4 linked regions of the Homo sapiens genome follow. The protein of the gene in region 1 interacts with the protein of each later gene in a pairwise test. Each region holds a gene or a part of one and is shown in the gene's direction. Other genes may lie near its edges.

Region 1 (5,069 bases):
GTTTATCCTTTTCTTCCTCATTTTTGTGCTGTTTTGTAAGATTTCTAGCAATGGCTTCCTTTTCTGTCAGTGTAAGAAAGTCCAGATTCTTTAGGAAGTTTGTGTTGGTGTGGATGAATAATATTTATCTCTTTCAACTTTTTTGACTGGATTTTTCTTGCAGGACCCTGAATTTTCTTTTGCTTCTTTTCATCTTCACCACCCAAATGCCAAAGGATTCCTCTTCCTTCTTTTTTATTTTTCCCTGAGAAGCTTTGGTTTTGAAGACTGTTACTTCAATAATATACTTTTAAGTCCCTGCCCTGTAAACCTTTCTTTGACTGGACACTATAGTAGTATTTTCAGATTTAGGGTGGACTGACTTGGTCTGCATTTGCCACAAAGCCTTGCAGCAGAAGCAGGGTGGGCACAAGTGTGTGAGATTGCTCCCTGAGATTTAAAAATTTACGGTTATTTCAAATGTGGGTATTCTCTGTCTTTAAGTTAGGCTGAGGGTGTGTTTTTGTTTAGTTTTATCTATTTTAGTTTTAGTTTGACTTCCACTGTCATCAGTTTCCTTGGAAGTTCCCAGTGATGACTAAATTTTCAGAACTGAGCTAATATTTTCCAGCTTGAAGGGAAAAACTAGTAAAACATATTTTAAGGTGTTACATGATCAACTCTGAAAATTACAACTCCATTCATAATGGCAGTCCTATTCAGTACTGTTACAGCACTTCGCAGTTTTGCCAACACTTTCATATGCTTTTTCTAATATAATCCCCTCAATGAAGAAATTGTGACATAGATTAAATTCCTGATGTCATGCAGCAGTTAAGTGATAGGACCAACTTAACACAGGCTTTCTCATTTACAGTCTGTGCCTTTTCTCCTGTACCTCATTATTTAACCTTGTTGATTCACACTAAGTGTCCAAACTGGTAAACCTCCATTAGGTTTATAGTAAGTATATTTAAAGTCATGCAGGCATGAACCTTTATGAAGTCTGGTTTGGATTGTGGGTTATTTTTTTGATCCTTTTAAAAAGATTAACTGTTCTTTCTTCCTTTTACCTTACAGGACCAAGCCATATGTCCTTCTATGTTCGAGCCCACAAAGGGTCAACACTTTCTCAGTGGTCTCTTGGCAATGGCACCCCAGTCACAAGTAAAGGAGGAGACTACTTTGTCTTTTACTCCCATGGACTCCAGGCCTCTGCATGGCAGTTCTGGATAGAAGTGCAGGTGCCAATTTCCCAGCATTGTTTGTTTCATTGATTAGGTTCCCAGGTGGTATTTAGCAAGAACCTTGGGTTCAGTATTCTGGCTTCTGAGAACTGGAGAACTAATTGATTTTCTCTGGCAGGTTTCAGAAGAACATCCTGAAGGAATGGTCACCGTGGCCATTGCTGCCCACTATCTGTCTGGGGAAGACAAGAGATCCCCTCAACTGGATGCTCTGAAGGAAAAGTTCCCAGATTGGACATTTCCCTCTGCCTGGGTGTGCACCTACGATCTCTTTGTATTTTAATCTTGTGGATGAGCTCTAAGTACATGCCCAGTGGATACTCCATGTGACATGGTTTCTCCCTATGTTACGTGGATGTTTGTAACGTAAGTCAATGAATTTTAATGATCATATGTTCAAAGAGCTTTCTGGGTTAACGCTTTTCAGGGCCAAGCACTATAAGGGTTTAGCTGTGGCGCAGTGATGCATGGCCTGTTGACACTTGAAAATGCCAGTCTTTTGGCACTTCAGCACATGTGGGTACTGCCACTACACACACGTCATTTTATATGACCTTAAGGACAAAGCCAACAATCCACTTCAATAGCTGCCCCTTTAGGATCAAGAAAGATGTACACTGTCAGAGCATTGTTAATGAGACAAAAGTTGTTTCCAATTTAAGCCCCAAAACCATTTGTTGTATTAGTGGATGGTGGGTAAAATATCATTCACTGAGGTAATGATTCCCCTTGAGAATATAACTCTGTGTAGGTCACTGGAAAGTGATTGCCATAGGGCTGGGAGAGAAGCATTGCACTCTTGAGGCTGTAGCCTGTGTCAAGCTGTTTCTTCAGGCAGCCTCTCAAATGTGCTTTGTCTCTCTGTGCTGAGGCCTGGACCCTGTGCTGAGCTGGTGACTCACTGTCCTGACAAGTGGACACACAGATGCACTGCTGTGCTGCTTTCCTGAGGTGGTTTTCTATGCCTGTTTTCCTCTGAAACATGTCTGTTACCCCTCTCCATCTTACCAAGTTGAAAAGGGGAATATTTGGCCACATACCCCTCTGGTTTTCGTAGGTTCTTTTGGTTCAGAATATTGTTTGTGCCAGTACATGACCTTAACTTCCTTCCTCAGAGCACTGAGCTGCCATCTGGGCTATTCTGGGGTAGAAGGAAGGCTGGGAGTGGTGGGAATTTTATAAATATTTATTCTCTTTTCTTTGTTTCATAGGAGTCTTGTGTTATACAAGGTTAGTCCTTCATGGTATAATCTTACTGATGCACTGGGCCTATCTTTTTGTTTTCCAGCCAGTTGAATAGATTAGTTTTTCTCAGTAACTTACTATCCAGCAGACTGGCTTTCCTGAGACTTGAGGTTGTGGCTTATACTGGAATGAGACCACTGTACGTGTAGGTGGTTCAGATCCTGCGTAATGGCAGCATGAGGACTTAAAAGGTGGTTTTCATTTTGAAGATGGCTATGTAGCTTGTAAGGTGTATCACAGCAGTACCTCTCATGGCTTTTTGGTTCCAGCAGTGAGGGCATTGGTGAGATCAATGGTAAACTGTGCAAGCTTTCTTTTTATCATTAGGAAATGTGAAACGTTGGACAAATTTTGAGTTTTAACAAGGACAAAAAGTTGAAAGAAAAGGCACAGTTAACAAAAAAGGGTGGCTAGATTTATCTTGGGTGATGGAGGAAATGAGAGAGGAATGCTCTTGAAAGGTGGTCTGTGGATCTGTCTGAATAGAAAGAGCACAGTAAGTATGCATTGCCGGAGAAAACGTCCTTGAAGCTGCTTGTCTCATGTGTATGATGTGCTTTTTAAATCATGCCCCTCGTTGCCTGCCTAATCTGTGACTCCCTAAAAACTAACTGGGCCCATGTAGATGGGGCTGCAACCAGAGCTGAATAACATGTTAGGCTCACACATGCATCAGCACTGCACACTGGAATCATTGCTCTTCCTGGACTTTGTAGAAATCAGTCTCAAGTGCTTCAAGAGTCTGGCTCCTGCTACTTTTATCTGTCAGGTAGCACATAAGGTTTGCAGGGTTTATATTTTGTATAGAATCACAGTTGTGGAGAAAAAGTAATAATTTCTCAATGAATTTTAAAAATGGGCCTATTTTCTATCCCCGTGGTTCATCTGATATAATTAGTGTTCCCTGTGAATTCCCCCCCTCTATGGGAAGGATGCCTTTACTCTTTATCAGTAATAAATTATGACTGTTTTCATATTGCCTTAGGGTTATTTCCCTGTGTAAACCATTGTCTTTTGTTTTGGTTTTCTTTAGCATTATGAAGCTTTGGTATTGTACAAGGTCAGTAGTAAGATGCTCACTAGTCTCAGGGCTTGTGTAATATTCTGGGAGGTCATTTAAATGCCAGAAATGGTCAAGCAATTATACACAGTATTTATGACTCTGTTAAGCATACCGTTTGTCTGTCACATTAGTAGATTCTGAGATTAAAAAAAATTTTTAAAGAGTGATCATTTAAATAATTTCTAAAAGGGTCTTTTCAAGCTCTAACAAAGTCACTAACAAATGCATTATTTTCTACAGAATTAGATGTTAGTAGTACAGTACTGCATATTCAGGGAAAAAGTGTGAGGAATTGATTTCAAAATAGTTCGTTCTTGTGTTTGACCTAAGAATGATTGTCGCATGAAGTGTTTGTTTTTACAGTTTAGCATATATAAACAAACATGATAGGATTCCTTAAGATGTTACCACCCAGGGGGCCACAAGCCAGCCTGCTGTCTCAGGAAGCTGTAGAAGGAGTGTTTGTCAATTTCTTGTCACTGGTTTGCTGACTTACTGAGGATTAATTGTTGCCTTACAATGTTACTGAAATAAACTGTTTAATATACTGGTTGGTATCTTTTTAACTGAAAAACAGATCTGTGTTCTTCTGTATCCCCATATTTTCAAGGGTTATTCCATGTCCACAGAGCCTTTTAATTGCTGTTAAAAGACCTAGATGGCTCATGTGAGCAAAGAACTCAACATGGAAATGTTTACTTCAGTTAGAATCCTTTATCTTAGAATGAAATGGTACTTCTGAATTTCACAGAAATTATTAGGTAAATGTTGAGCTTCACCTATGTAGGAGTTTTAAATCATCCCCATTAGCAAAAAAATAGCAAAGGGTAAAGGGCGTTCTTTTATTTGGGAGTAAGGGTAGGAGGGAGGGAAGAAGTTGCCTTTCAGCCAGAGTGACTCATTGCTTATTCTAATCTCCACAGAAGGAAAGGGCACCACCACTCACCAAAATAGAGCATGAACTTTGAGTTCAGAGATCTCTGTGCAAGTTATTTAAACTTTGAGTGAATTCTCTCAGAACAGTTCAATGCAAGGTGAAGCAGCTGAACAACTTCTAACCTAATACTCCTCTTCTTCTTTTAGGGCCAATAAAGTCAAGATGCAGTTATGGCTATTTACATTTGTTTTTAGCCAAGATGCAGTTACGACTCTTTTTAAATTTTTTAAAATTATACTTTAAGTTCTGGGGTACATGTGTGGAATGTACAGGTTTGTTACATATGTATACATGTGCCATGGCAGTTTGCTGCACCCATCAACCTGTCATCTACATTAGGTATTTCTCCTAATGCTGTCCCTCCCCTAGCCCCCCACCCTCTGACAGGCTCTGGTGTGTGATGTTCCCCTCCCTGTGTCCATGTGTTCTCATTGTTCAACTCCCACTTATGAGTGAGAACATGCGGTGTTTGGCTTTCTGTTCTTGTGTTAGTTTGCTGAGAATGATGGCTTCCAGCTTCATCCATGTCCCTGCAAAGGACAGGAACTCAACCATTTTTAGGGCTGCATAGTATTCCATGGTGCATACGTGCCACATT
Region 2 (4,350 bases), on another chromosome or scaffold:
TATCAAAACTGACTACTGGACCGGAGCCCAGAAACCATGGGTCAAGTTACACGTGAATTTGTTTTGTGAAGAAGGGAAGCTGGGGCAGGTAACACGCAGAGCCGCCACGTGGAACGGTCTGTCCGCCGGTCTGTCCCGCTTGCCGGGCTTCTGTTGCAAGTCTTGGCTTAAGGAGACTTCCTGTGGGTTGCCATGTCGCACGTCCGTTAGATCTTGATTTTACAGGTGAGGGTGGTTGCCAAAGGTGATAAGAAAAGCAGCCAACAGGCTCCCTCTCACTTAAGAGAGTTCTAATTAATAACACTAAATTCTTCCTGAGAAATGACTCCTCTTGGTTTGGTTTGAAGTTTTTCAGTGAAGGAAAAGGCCTGAGATAGGAAGCAGTGCCCTCGCTTCATGAGGTGGCACATCTTCGGTGGCCGTTGGCCTGGTCGAGCTTTGGTCAGCTGCGTGGGTGCCTGTCTCCTGTCTCCAGCGGCAGGGCATGGTTCTTGGCAGCCTGGTGTCCACACGGTGCATTCCTGTCCCCCTCGGCCCCAGGCTGGCTCAGCTCTCCAGTGCTGCGGCGCTGTCTTTGCAGCATTGCCATGTCACCGTAGCCCCCTTCACTCTTGGAAGTTTGGGGCTTCAAGGTTTATTCTGGCAAGAACACCTCGGAGCCACTGCATTGTTTTGCCAAAAACTTACTGCAGATTAAGTAAAGAACTTAGATGCTAAATTACATCTAATTTTGTATGTTTTTTTAAATGTGTCTTTGATGCATACTTTAGAAGCACACTGGCTCGCGGTTTCCATCCCTCTTGCCTTGGGACACTCTTGAGGCTGGCAGCCCTCCTGCAATGAGTTGCTCTCAGTTCCTTCTGTTTGGATTTTGCTCAACATCTCCAGTTTCTCTGCTCTGAAAAATGGGGAAAACTGCTAAACATCCCAGAGATTTGCAATCTTCTAGCTCTCCAGGTGAGCAGAAAGACCAAATATCCAAATAAAAGCCTGAAAGCCATTGGTGATCCAGGGGCACCTTCTCTTCAGCTTGACTGGGCGTCTTCCGCTGCATAACACTCAAGGTGTCTGCTCTAGTCATCCAGAAACCCACTCCCTTCTGAAGCCCCTCCTTGGGCCGGGTTGTATCAGGAGGATTCAACCCCGCTAACATGTGGGGTGCCCTCTGTAGGCCTTCACACAGGGAAGGAAGCCCTACCCTTTCAACTCCTGTTGGAGTGAGAGTTTCCTGTTCTGATTCCACTGTGGCCAACCCAATAATTCTGTCCGAGGAGGGGTAAGGGAATAGGAGGTGGGGAGCAAAGAGGGCAGCCTGACTAGATGCCCCTGCTGAATCTGGTACTTTCTGCACAGCCTTGAGTGATTGGAGTCCCCTAATGACTAATAAACTTGAACATGTAACACACACACACACACACACACACACCATTTTAGGAAGTGGTTCTCCTACTGGAAAATATGCTACAGAATGAAAGTTTGTAATTGAAAGAAAAAGAATGTATTCATCTGCTTCTTGGGTTTAAGCACACACCTGAAGGGGAGATATTGGGGGACACGGTGGCCACTCGCGGTCTGTGTCATGACACTTCCCATTCACATCATTGGCCTGCGTTGCTGGGGCTTTGAACCACCACCCCGTACTTTGTTTTGCCTGTAGAGTGTTGTAAAATATTTTGGATGTGAATGTCCTTGCAGGCCGGTTAGTCTCCAGTTTCCACAGAGACCACCTACCCACCACCTTCCCAGGTCACCTGCCTGGTCCCTGAAAGAAAGCATTTGTGTGGGCAATCCCAACATGAAATGTAGACAGCGTGAATACGGACAGGAGGTGATGCCATATTCACAGTGGGGGATGGAGGGCCCCCACCCCTGCTTCACAGAATAATGGGAAGTGACTCTAGTCTTTGTAAGCAATTTTCATTCTCATTAGGAAGTTAAATGTAGATTCACAGATACATTTACTTTCAGAATCCTCAAGAGGATTTCAAATGCTAACTTTTAGTTTCTTGGGATTGATCAAGGCAAGAGAAGTGGCTTTAACCATGCCAGCCAGAATGAAGCATCATGGGTCCTGATGGTTTCCCGTTTTCATGGTAACAAATTCGCACAGAGGTTTTGCTTTATGCTGTAGAATACCGACTTTCATGATGACAACTTGGTTTATGCATGAATATTGCAGTATTTCCATATAGCAAAATAACATTTCTACCCAGGATAATAGTCACAGTTTTCCAGGGAGGGAATGATATAATTTTCATGACAATGTCATGTGATGATAGAATTTCTCCATTGATGAATCTCTAGTATGTGTGTATACTTTATTTACCCATACGTATATTTTATGACCATGAGCTAAGTTGTTATTTCTTTCATTCATATCCCTGCTGAAATATTGGTACTAGCAACTTAAAGTTGGCAAGTCTCATCTTCAGTAATACGGATGCCATGGGAGTGGCCAGGCCAGATTGAAGGTGAATATGGAGCAGTAGCAGAAGCCTCATTCCAGAACCCATCTGGCCAGAGAAGCAGCAGCATCCTGGGGGATGGCCGTGCATGGGGTGTACACTCGCTATAGGCATAGGCCCGGCATGGCTGTCGCTGGACGCCAGCTGTGCACACCCAGCCACACCTGCTGCACGCCGCGTTAGTGTGCGGCTCCGGGCCTGAGCATTCGCAAAGCTCGCTTCTCCAGGGAGCCTCCTCTTGGCTTTGGAAAAGAGCCCAGGGACTTAACGTGCTGCCTGTTGTACTCTGTCCCCTCATGACTTTTTAGACACAGGGACTAGGACATCGACCACCCTCTGCCCCTCCTGCAGTCAGAACCCGAGTAGTGCAAGAACGGCCACCCGGTTTTGCCAGCGTTCAGCGTCTGCCCATGGACCCATAAGGCACATTAGCGTTGGGGGTCTCTTTTCAGCAGCCTCACAGACATTCCCGTCCTTTCTGGTTGGTGTTGACTGTGTTTCAGCATCACTCTACCCTCCCATGTCCTTAGCATTGCTGTGCGTGTTTCCAGGCACTTAGGACACCCTTCCCCACGTTGCCATCTTACTGACAGTTCAAATGACTCTCCTTTTTTGTTCGTTAGTAACAATCTTCATTTGACACCTTAATACATTTCTGACTGTTCTTAAAACAGTGGGGATGCCTATATTTTCCTTGAGTTTTTGTGACTGACTTTGGCTATATATACCTTTCTGGGGTTTTGTTTGTTTTTTATTTTTATTTTGATTACCGAGGGTATTTGGGGTGGGGTTGTTTTTTGAGATGTGTAATTCTTTTATGGAGTTTTTAAAAAGAATTTTCATATTGTTTTTCTAACATGGCTTCATTAAACGTTTAAGTATTTTAAAAATATGTAATATTTGGACCAGATGTTGTGAATAATAGTAGAGATAAAGCTATTTTATTCTGTATTTTTAAAACTGTTCCGTACAAATAAAAGCTCTCCTGGACACAGTTTTGCTCTTCACGTGCCTCCTTCTTGGGCTACTCTTTAAGAAAAGAGTCATCCCTCAGAATCTGTAGGGGATTGGTTCCAAGACCTCCTCGGATACCAAAATCCGAGACTACTCAAGTCCCTGATATAAAATGGCATAGTGGGTCAGGCACAGCGGCTCACCCATGTAATCTCAGCACTTTGAGAGGCCAAGGCGGGAGAATTGCTTGAGGCCAGGAGTTCGAGACCAGCCTAGGCAACATAGTGAAACCCGCCCCCCCCGCCCCGCCCCTTCACTAAAAAAAATTAGGCACACATGGTGGTGAACGCCTGTGGTCCCAGCTACTTAGGAGGCTGAGGTGGGAGGATTGCTTGAGCCCAGGAGTTCAAGACTGCGGTGAGCCGTGTTCGCACCACTGGACCCCAGGCGAGGTGACAGAGTAAGACTGTCTCAAAAACATAAAATGGTGTTGTGGATTTTGGTGTAGTGTATGTGTACATGGATATGGTGTAGTGTATAGATTTGGATATAATCTATGCATATCTTCCTGTATTCTTTAAATCATCTCTAGAGGACTTATAATATCAAATACAATATAAAGGCTATGTAATACTTGTTACACTGTATTGTTTCTATATTTGCATTTTTATTGTGTTGTTTTTATTGTTTTTTATTTTCAATCCTCGGTTGAATCCAAGGATACAGAAGCCTCAGGTACAGAAAGCCGATGGTAATTAATTAAAAGTTGTCACCTAGGGGAGGAAATCAACGGATAAGAAATTCAATTCAACAAGTTCATGAGCGTTATCATTGTCAGGTGCCTGGCAGACTGATCAATGAAAGCTACAGGAAAGGGACAATCAGTCCTCGTTCCCAGAGAACCAGAGATTGGGCAGGACTCTTGCGAGGA
Region 3 (5,156 bases), on another chromosome or scaffold:
TGCCATCACACCTGGCTAATTTTTTTTTTTTTTTTTAAGTAGAGATGGAGTTTGGAGTTTTGTCATGTTGCCCAGGCTGGTCTCGAACTCCTGAGCTCAGGCAATCTGCCCGCCTCGGCCTCCCAGTGTCCTAAGATTACAGACATGAGCCACTACTCCCGGCCAACTTTCACTTCTATGTAGTGGAAAACCAGAATATTATCTGTATTTTAAATGATGTATTCTCACTAATTTTCCGACACCTGGTGAAACATTAGACAGAAGAGAAGACATTTTTGTTTTGGTCTTCCCATTGTCACAGCTCATACCCTTAAGTGTTCCATGCCCTCAAGGATCTGGTTTCACTGTCTTCATCAAATTAATTAACTGGAAAAAAAAGCTTGAGAAGGGGAAGGGGGGAAATATTTATAATGTTTGGCAAGAAGGAAGATGAAACTGCTAACTGAGAAAAAAAATGCATGCTGTTTAATCTTTTTCCTGTTTGCAATGTTTTCTTCCCCTTCCTGTACAGTTTTGCCTTGGGGCAGAAAATTCTCAGCACATAGAAGATTTTTCCCTCTCTCAGACATAACTTAAAAGCATAGTAACATAGTAACTAGCAACAGTAAGGAAGAGGTTTTTTTGTTGTTGTTGTTGTTTTTTTTTTTTGGTTAGGGGGAGTCTGAATTCCAGATGTGTGGCAACTAAGAGATGGGTGATTATTTGTAATTTGGTTAAAATGATCAGTCTAATTTTCCAAAGGTGAAACTGAATGGCAATAAGTACTGAGTTCTGATAAACAGAATGCCCTCACCCCCAACAAGGTAGATACCTATGTCCGAATTACCGAAACCTGTGAATGTTACCTTGTGTGGCAAAAAGGACTTTGCAGATGTGATTAAATTAAGATCTTGAAATTAGATCATGTTGGATTATTTGGGTGGACCAAAAATAATCACAAGGTCTTTATAAAAGGGAGGCATAAGGGTCACAGTCAGAGAAGATGTGACAGTGGACCAGAGGTCCGAATGATGTAGCTGCAAGCCAAGAAATGCAGGCATTCTCAAATCGCTGGAAAAGGCAGGGAGCAAATTCTGCCCGAGCCTCCAGATGGAGTGCAGCCCTTCCAACACCTTGATTTTAGTCCCCTAAGATCCATTTCAGACTTCTGATCACCAGAACTGTAAGATAATAAATGTTGTGTTGTGTTAAGCCACTGAGTTTGTGGTAATTTCTTACAGTAGCAATAGGAAACTAATACACATATGATGTTTACAGGGTTGTGTGTTGACTCCCATTATAGACAGGAATTTCACACAATAATTTTCAAGAAAACATATTGTATTCCAGACTCAAATACTAAGGCCGTAAAGCTCTTCAACCTGGAGAAAGCCTCTAAAAGTCATCATAATTGGGAAATTTACAAGGATGGGCCAAAGTAGATCAATATTCTGTTTTACTTTTTGGTGCAAGTTTAGACAAATCTGTTTATCTTGGACACGTTCAATGCCTTACTGTAAAGTTTGTCTGTGTACAGCAGAAGTGAGAGGAGAACCAATGAGCTGAGAGATAATTCAATCAATCTGCTTCCTCCGTCTTTGCTTCAGGGCTTCATACAGGAAATCTATTGCTGTGTCAAGTTCCAGAGAAAAGCTTCTGTTCGTCCAAGTTACTAACCAGGCTAAACCACATAGACGTGAAGGAAGGGGCTAGAAGGAAGGGAGTGCCCCACTGTTGATGGGGTAAGAGGATCCTGTACTGAGAAGTTGACCAGAGAGGGTCTCACCATGCGCACAGTTCCTTCTGTACCTGTGTGGAGGAAAAGTACTGAGTGAAGGGCAGAAAAAGAGAAAACAGAAATGCTCTGCCCTTGGAGAACTGCTAACCTAGGGCTACTGTTGATTTTGACTATCTTCTTAGTGGCCGGTAAGTTTGAATTCTCTTTGGGAGAACAGTGAGAAACCTGGTCTCAGCTCTTCCTGAGTTTATTTTTTGTCTTTCTTCTGGGGCAATACAAATCAATTGCAATAATAAATATAGGGGGTTGCTAAATATGGGTTACTCCCATATCTAGTTTACTTTATTATCCTTTTTTCCGGTGTCTTGCTTGTTGTACTTTGTATCCTACTACAATATACAGATCTCTATAATTTGTCTTACTGTCCATTTCCTTATTTCCTCCTGTTTTTTGAACAAGGCAGGATAAATCAAATACATACTAGCAGCAATCAAAGTCAGTTAGGTTCTCTTTATCTTATTCTCTTCCCCAACCCCCTTTTTTGAGACAGGGTCTTGCTCTGTTGCCCAGGCTGGAGTGCAGTGGTGCAATCGTAGCTCACTGCAGCCTGTAACTCCAGGTCTCAAGCAGTCCTCCCACTCAGCCTCCTGAGTGTCTAGGACTACAGATATGCGCCACTATGCTTGGCTAATTTTTAAAATTTTTGGTAGAGATAGAGTCTTGCTATATTGTCCATGCTGGTCTTGAGCTCCTGTCTTCAAGCAATTCTCCCACCTCAGACTCCCAAAGCATTGGGATTACAGGCATGAGCCACTGCACCCAGCCTCTTCTCTCTTAATTTTTTTTTTTAAGATAAGAACGCTAACTCATTTAGGTCCACATTGCCAGTGGCATAGATTAGGACAGTTTATTGCTTTCTGTCACTTTCGATGATTAGGCACTTCAAAAATATAATATGCCTACAGTTACAGTGGTGCGTCTGTGATGTATGTCTGTATTTATCTTCAAGATGTGTGGGCTGTAAGAGACACTACGAGTTAGAGAACAGACTCTTCAACATCTAGGTTCCTATAGAAGTTATAGAGAACTTGGGCCACTGTGGGGGTGTCCTGGTTTCACTGTAGAAGGTTGGTAGGAGTTGGTGTGGGAGGGAGTTTTCAGGTTTCACTTTTGGTAGACAGAGCAGCTGCAAGGGAAGAGTGTAGTTGGTTTTAAATGTTATAATTTGATAATTGAAAGAAGAAAAGGTATTTTTCCTCATTTCTGAATGACTTTAAAATGCTGCTTATCTTCCACAAAAAATCTTCTTTCCACATGTTAATCTTACTAGTGAACACATGCAAAATAACTACACTCTTTGACTGCACCTTTCTATTGAGAATTTTCACATGCTTTTTTCCCTTTGATCTGCACAGCAACCCAGTGAAGTAGACATGGAAGACACCTCTCCATTTTACAAAGGTAGAAATGGAGGCGTAGAGAGGTGAAATGATTTGGCCAAGGTTAGATATGACTAGTATGTGCCAGAATCACAATCAGTAATGATATACATCAGTAAGCACCACTAAACATTTGAGTGGGCAATTTTCCTCATTATTTAACCATTGTGCTTTTCACTGAAGAGCATCAGTGAAAAAAGTCAAGCCAATACTTAGTTTTAGCCTTAATAGACTGTTACTCACCTAAAAAGTCAAGTGATCTGAATCTTTCAGTAGTTCAGATCTTGTTGTAGAAAGCTCTTATAGCAACTTGTGTAGGACCCAGCTTGGCTGGGGCAGCCAGATAGGCAAGGAGCTGTTTATGTCAAATTGCACTGTTACTCCTGGGAAAAGGAAAAAAAATGATTAAAACATAATTTGTAATTTTCAATTTTAAAGGTTGAAAGGTTTAAATTTTAAAACTATTTCTGAACACAACTAGGAAAGACTACATATAGCAGATCTATGAAGTCTATGCTTATGTTATTGTAAAGTTATTAAATGTTTAAAATCAGGATTTAAAAAAGCATATTACTTTACATGTAGTGATTTGGTGTGATAGGTTAACCATGACATGATTTAGAATAATGAGAAGCATACCACTTGGGGAAATATGACTTTATGTCTTTATTGCTAAAACTGCTATGTTATTAATACTGCCAAACAGAAAGAACTCGCTTTGTACAAGGTAAATTCACAAAGGAACAAGGGAGCTAATGACTTAAATGTAAAACATAGTATTCATTTGGTTTCCCTATTTTCTTTTTGTCTACTTATTTGCTTATAACTTCAAGCAGCTTGGCAGTTAGTAAACAAGATTTATCCAGAAAAAACCTAAGGGGAAAAATAAAAACAACCTAAATTGTGTACATCAGAGCTATATTCCCAGCCTTGTACCTGGTCCCCTTCCCGGACACTCCCCGTACCCTGTGCCACTTCTTCCTCCTTTTTTTTAGCCCTATTGTCTTCTAGATTTTTGTGTGTGTGTTCAAATTATATTTTGGTGTTCCAATTAAAATTATTCCATCTTTTATAAAAGTTACTGATTTTGTGATTATGAGTTACTAAAAAGGAACCCTTCACTTCTTTCCTTCTTTGGGCTAATTTTTATTCATTTATTGTTGTCTTCCACTAGAGGACAGGCAGTAACAAGAAGAGGAGATAAAAATCAAGACAGGGCTCTAAGGTAGCTTTGGCAGATTTGCAAACAGTGGAAAAAGATTCAAAACAATTGTGCAAAAGAAGGGTTTTGTCCTTATTAATAACTTTAGTCCTATCTTCCTTTTCTAGTTTGCATATTTGTGAATTTACATGTTATAATAATTTATAGGTGTGTTTTTCTCTAAATGTTCATGCTTAAGCAATTAATAAATTAATTAAAAGTCCTTATTAATGTCTGTGTGTGTGTGTAGAATAGTGCCTAAAAGTTATTAGTAATCTAAATTAGAAAGACAAAGGTAAGATGAAACAATTGGTGAACATTTAAAATCAGTAAATCTTGAAATTGTATATGAAACTAGTACAAATCTAAAGGAGGGAGAAATTACAGTGGGTTGGAGTTGTGGAGGATTTTATGGAGATGGGTCTTGAGCTAGGCTTTGAATGACAGGTTTGGATAAATGGGGAAATGCAGAGAAAGGAATTGGAAGGATGGGATGTGTAGCATGTGCAAATGCAAGGTGCTTCAGAGAGAGAAAGAGCTGTAGCTTGCAGGAACAGAGGTTGTGTGTTAAATAATAGTAGGAAATAAGGCTGGATTTTGGGGGTCCTTAATAGCTAAATTAAAGAACCTGGGTATTAGTCAGTAGACAATGAGGAACCACCTGTTCTTTGGTGAACAGGAAAATTTATAATTAAGTAGGATTTTTTGGAGAATAATGTGGTAACAGTGTCCCATTGAGTGGCGGTGGCACTAGGTAAAATATTTATTTTGAAACATGAGTCAAGAGCTTCTGCCCTGG
Region 4 (4,523 bases), on another chromosome or scaffold:
AAAGTGCTGGGATTGTAGGCATGAGCCACCGCACCCAGCCCATTCTCTCTCTTTCTAACAAATATACATTATTATTATTATTACTAATGTTTTGAGCCAGTTGACAGTAGATTGATTGTATCGTTCCCTTACCCCTTGATACTTTAGAGCATTTTCCCTAAGAACAGGATTTTTTTTTATGTAATGTCAATGGAGCTATCAAATTCAGGAAATTTAACATGGATATAATACTTTAGTCTAATTTGCCGTGCCTACTCTGATTGTGTCAATTATTCCGATAATGTCTTCCATGGAAGTCTTTTTTTCTCTAATGCAAAGCCCAGTCCATGACTGTGTAAGACATTTATGCATCACACCTCTCTAGCCTCTTTTAATCTGGAAAAGTTCTCAGCCTTTATCTTTCATGACATTGACATTTGTGACAATTATCTATAGGGTATTCCTAAATTTGGTTTGTCTGATGTTTCTTCATGATACCGTAGCCTTCTGAGTTTCATGTCTGGAGGTATTTAATGCCCGTCGCCTCTCAGTGGTGATGTCCATTTTGATCACTGGGTCAAGGTGTTGTCTGGGTCTCTTGTGTAGTAATTACTTCTTCACCTTGTAACTAATATATAACATGTGGGAGATGTTGTAAAGTCATATAAATCTCCTACTCCTCCTTAAATTTCCTTTCTGCCTAGATTTGTTATCCATTGATGATTCTTGACTGACCCAATCTTTACTATAATGTTTACAAAATACTGGTTTTTCTAGTTCACCAATTCATCCAAATCATCAGTTGGCACTTTGCTGTAAGGAATAGCCATTCCTCCAAGGCAGGCGGATCACTTGAGACCAGGAGTTTGAGACCAGCCTGGCCAACATGGCAAAACCCTGTCTCTGCTAAAAGTACAAAAAAATTAGCTGGGCATGGTGGTGCACACCGTAATCCCAGCTACTCAGGAGGCTGAGGCAATAGAATCCCTTGAACCTAGGAGGCGGAGGTTGCAGTAAGCCACTGCACTCCAGCCTGGGTGACAAAGTAAGACTCTGTCTCAAAAAAAATACTCTAAAAAACAAAAAAGCAATAGCCATTCCTTTCTTACTCTCTTTATATGTATATATTTATAAATATTTATACCAAATAGGTATATAATAATTTTATGTACATGTGATTATGTTCACAAAAAACTTAAAAAACATTTATTTATCTGATATTATCAGTGTAGAATCATGGAGTCCTATTTTTGTAGTTCATCACTCTATTTACTTGTTTAATTTTTTTTTGGAGACAGGGCCTCTTTCTGTGACTGAGGCTGGAGTGTAGAGGTGTGATCATGGCTCACTGTAGCCTCCAACTCTTGGGTTCAAGTGACCCTCTTGCCTCAGCTTCTTGAGTAGCTGAGACTACACAGGCATGCCACCACACCCAGCTTAACTTTTTATAGAGACCGGGTCTGCCTGTGTTGCCCAGGCTGGCCTTGAACTCCTGGCCTCCCGTCCTTAATTATTTTGATGCTCAAATTGTCCTAGATTTGACAAGTCAAAGCCCATTAACTTGTTGCTGTGTCATTTTAACATACCTTCATTGTTTTTTGAGTAATGTTTTACTTTTCGATACAAAAATATGTCCTACGTTCATCTTGTACTTTCCCTGCCTCAGCCCTGAATTCATTTCCCCAAGGAGCCCAGGTTCTTGTTAGTAGGGAATGGTGTTTAGAAACCAAACTATGGGGCCGGGCACGGTGGTTCACGCCTGTAATCCCAGCAGTTTGGGAGGCCGAGGCAGGCGGATCATGAGGTCAGGAGATTGAGACCATCCTGGCTAACACAGTGAAATCCCGTCTCTACTAAAAATACAAAAAAATGAGCCAGGCGTGGCGGTGGGTGCCTGTAGTCCCAGCTACTCAGGAGGCTGAGGCAGGAGAATGGCATGAACCCAGGAGGAGGAGCTTGCAGTGAGCCAAGATCATGCCACTGCACTCCAGTCTGGGCTACAGAGCAAGACTCTGTCTCAAAAAAACAAAAAAAACAAAAAAAACAAAAAACTATGGGGACTCAATGTGCTCTTTGCCATTGGGGTCACCTTGTTTCCCTGCCATCTTGATGACAGAGCTAATACACACACACAAGTTTGTACTGAGACCTCCACTTCCAGCCCAACTCCACGGGATTTTTCCCTGCTTGCCCCATTCCATACATGTATTCTTCTTTCAAAGTAAGAAATTTGTCTCCCCCTATTATACAAATAGGTGAAACACCTATTTTACAAATAGATTAAAAAATTTACTTACTTGTATAATTCTATAATACTTACCCATGCCATTATAAAAAACAAAGCTACCAAGAAATATTCAAGACTTTTCAGTTCTTTTTCCCTTAGACTTAATGAATATAGCCAAATACTGTATCTAGAAATTACCGTACTTCCATTAGTTCTTTTTTCCACCTTTAGTGTGATTATGTAATGCATGATACATTTGAAATTCATTTGCATCCATTTGTGGGGTTTTTTTTTTTTGGCATTTAGTTTTAGTTTTTTTTCTCCATTCTGGCTAATTATCTTAGTCTGTTCAAGATGCCAGAACAAAATACTACAGATTGGGTAGCTTAAACAACACATATTTATTTTCTCACGACTCTGGAGGCTGAACGTCCATGGTCAAGGTACTGTTGAGGGTTGGTTTCTGGTGAGGCCTCTCTTCCTGGCTTGCAGACAGCCACCTTCTCAGTGCGTCCTCACATGGCCTTTACTCAGTGTGCATGCACAGAGGAAGAGAGCCCTGATGTCCCTTCCTCTTTTTATAAGGAAAACAGTTTTTCAGATTAGAGCCCCCACTCTTATGACCTCATTTAACCTTAATTACCTCCCTGAAGATACTGTCTCCAAACACAGTCATATTAGGTTAGGACTTCAACATACTAATTTGACTAAGGTGGGGGGACTCCATTCAGCCCATAACACTAATATAATTTATTTTTTTAATATATAGGACATTACCACCTAAAAGTCAAAATTATTCCAAAAGGTGTACTCAGAAAGTGTCAATCCCTCCAGTCTTTCTAACCCTCCCCCTCTCCCACCCCTACCACTCATAGGTAACCAATTTTAATGCCTTCTGGTTTGTCTTTCCTGTGTCTTAGTGTTTTTTCCTCAAAATAAATCGCTTATGTGTTTTCTTATTTTTCCCTTTTCTATTATATGAAAGGCAGCACACTATGTATTCTTTTTTTTGCGTTCTCCTTTTTTTCTCAATAATATGTCCTGAAAATTACTCTACTAGTTCACAGAATCTTTCCTTATTATTTTCCACCTGGTGGTGTATATATATATATATATATATATATATATATATATATATATAGACACACACACACCCACACACAATTTTGTATGTGTACACAATAGTGTGTGCGCCATATTTTATTCCATCTCCTATGTTTAGGTAGTTTTCAGTATTTTATAGTTATAAATAGTGCTGTAATTTGCATGACTGCATGTTTATAATGTTGTCATTAATCTTTAGAGTCAATTCCTAGAAGTGGGACTGTTGGGTCAAAGGGTTTATTGTACTTTTAAATGTATATTTTAATGATTTACATCAGTTTCTTTACTTCGAATAATAATTGGGTAAGCGAATGATCTCTTTAGTTTTAGGATCTCTAAATTTATCAATCCACTATTGTGTGTGTGCAGAGAGGGTTATCATACCAAAATGATCCAATCTATTACAAGATAGAAAGTAGTAAACACCATGAAGGATTAGGACATAGTGTTCAGGATGTCTGGAAGAGAGAGAAGCCCCAGCTACTGAGTCAGGGAGCTCTCTAGAAAAGAAGGAGCCATTTAAGCTTGACTTTAAAGAGTGGGTAGAACATGGAACTATGGAGAAGCTCAGAACGTGTAGTTTAGGCAAAGGCAATAATGATGGCTGAGGCACTGCTGGGATGCTTGGAAAGAGGGTGGGGCGACCAAGTTTAGATGAGAGTGTGTCCTGACGAGAGTGGGTCCTGGATGTTTAGGCTGTATTTTAACCCTGCTTCTTCTACCTTAGTTCAGTGTGGCTCAAAATGATCAGAATGAAGAATTCAGAAAGCTTGAGAGGCTTTCTGAGTTATGGCTTCTGTGCTTGCTTTTGGGATTCGGTGCTCTGCCTGTGGTTCTCCCAGGACAAATATTAGTACCAGGGAGATCTAGTGGAAACCAGGAGTCCAGACATCTATTGTCCAACCCTGACCTTGCTACCAATCCACTCTGACCTTGTTGATGGTCACGTGAACGCAGGAACCATGGCTGGAATATGTTGCTTCTCTATCTGTGACTATTACAGTGCCTACCTTTCACACAGGAGGGGTCCTGCCTCCAGCTTCCTCTGTGGCATCAGACAAGTCACTTTCTCTCCCTGTACTGGGGTTCCTGGTCTCTGCAGTAAAGGAGATACTGTAGATGGTCTCTAAGCCCATAATTGTACTTTCTCAGATTCTGTGAAAATAGGAGAGATGTATGCACTGTACAAATGGACATTTTTTGTTATCCATGT

Evidence for each region.
Region 2: the proteins of ERMP1 (region 1) and SLC23A2 interact in a two-hybrid assay, tested with the Homo sapiens proteins (one large-scale study listed by BioGRID).
Region 3: the proteins of ERMP1 (region 1) and CD200R1 interact in binary tests that used the Homo sapiens proteins (3 or more experiments, as listed by UniProt).
Region 4: the proteins of ERMP1 (region 1) and SLC18A1 interact in a two-hybrid assay, tested with the Homo sapiens proteins (one large-scale study listed by BioGRID).

The regions. Positions count from the first base shown.
Region 1 is NC_000009.12:5,783,584-5,788,652, reverse strand, and holds the end of ERMP1 (endoplasmic reticulum metallopeptidase 1), read left to right. Parts: intron 1-1,059; coding exon 1,060-1,223; intron 1,224-1,344; coding exon 1,345-1,509; 3' UTR 1,510-4,081; downstream 4,082-5,069. UniProt on the Homo sapiens protein: Within the ovary, required for the organization of somatic cells and oocytes into discrete follicular structures.
Region 2 is NC_000020.11:4,851,467-4,855,816, reverse strand, and holds the end of SLC23A2 (solute carrier family 23 member 2), read left to right. Parts: 3' UTR 1-3,459; downstream 3,460-4,350. UniProt on the Homo sapiens protein: Sodium/ascorbate cotransporter. Mediates electrogenic uptake of vitamin C, with a stoichiometry of 2 Na(+) for each ascorbate.
Region 3 is NC_000003.12:112,971,540-112,976,695, reverse strand, and holds the start of CD200R1 (cell surface glycoprotein CD200 receptor 1 isoform a precursor), read left to right. Parts: upstream 1-1,592; 5' UTR 1,593-1,838; coding exon 1,839-1,905; intron 1,906-5,156. UniProt on the Homo sapiens protein: Inhibitory receptor for the CD200/OX2 cell surface glycoprotein. Limits inflammation by inhibiting the expression of pro-inflammatory molecules including TNF-alpha, interferons, and inducible nitric oxide synthase (iNOS) in response to selected stimuli.
Region 4 is NC_000008.11:20,165,114-20,169,636, reverse strand, and holds part of SLC18A1 (chromaffin granule amine transporter), read left to right. Parts: intron 1-4,523.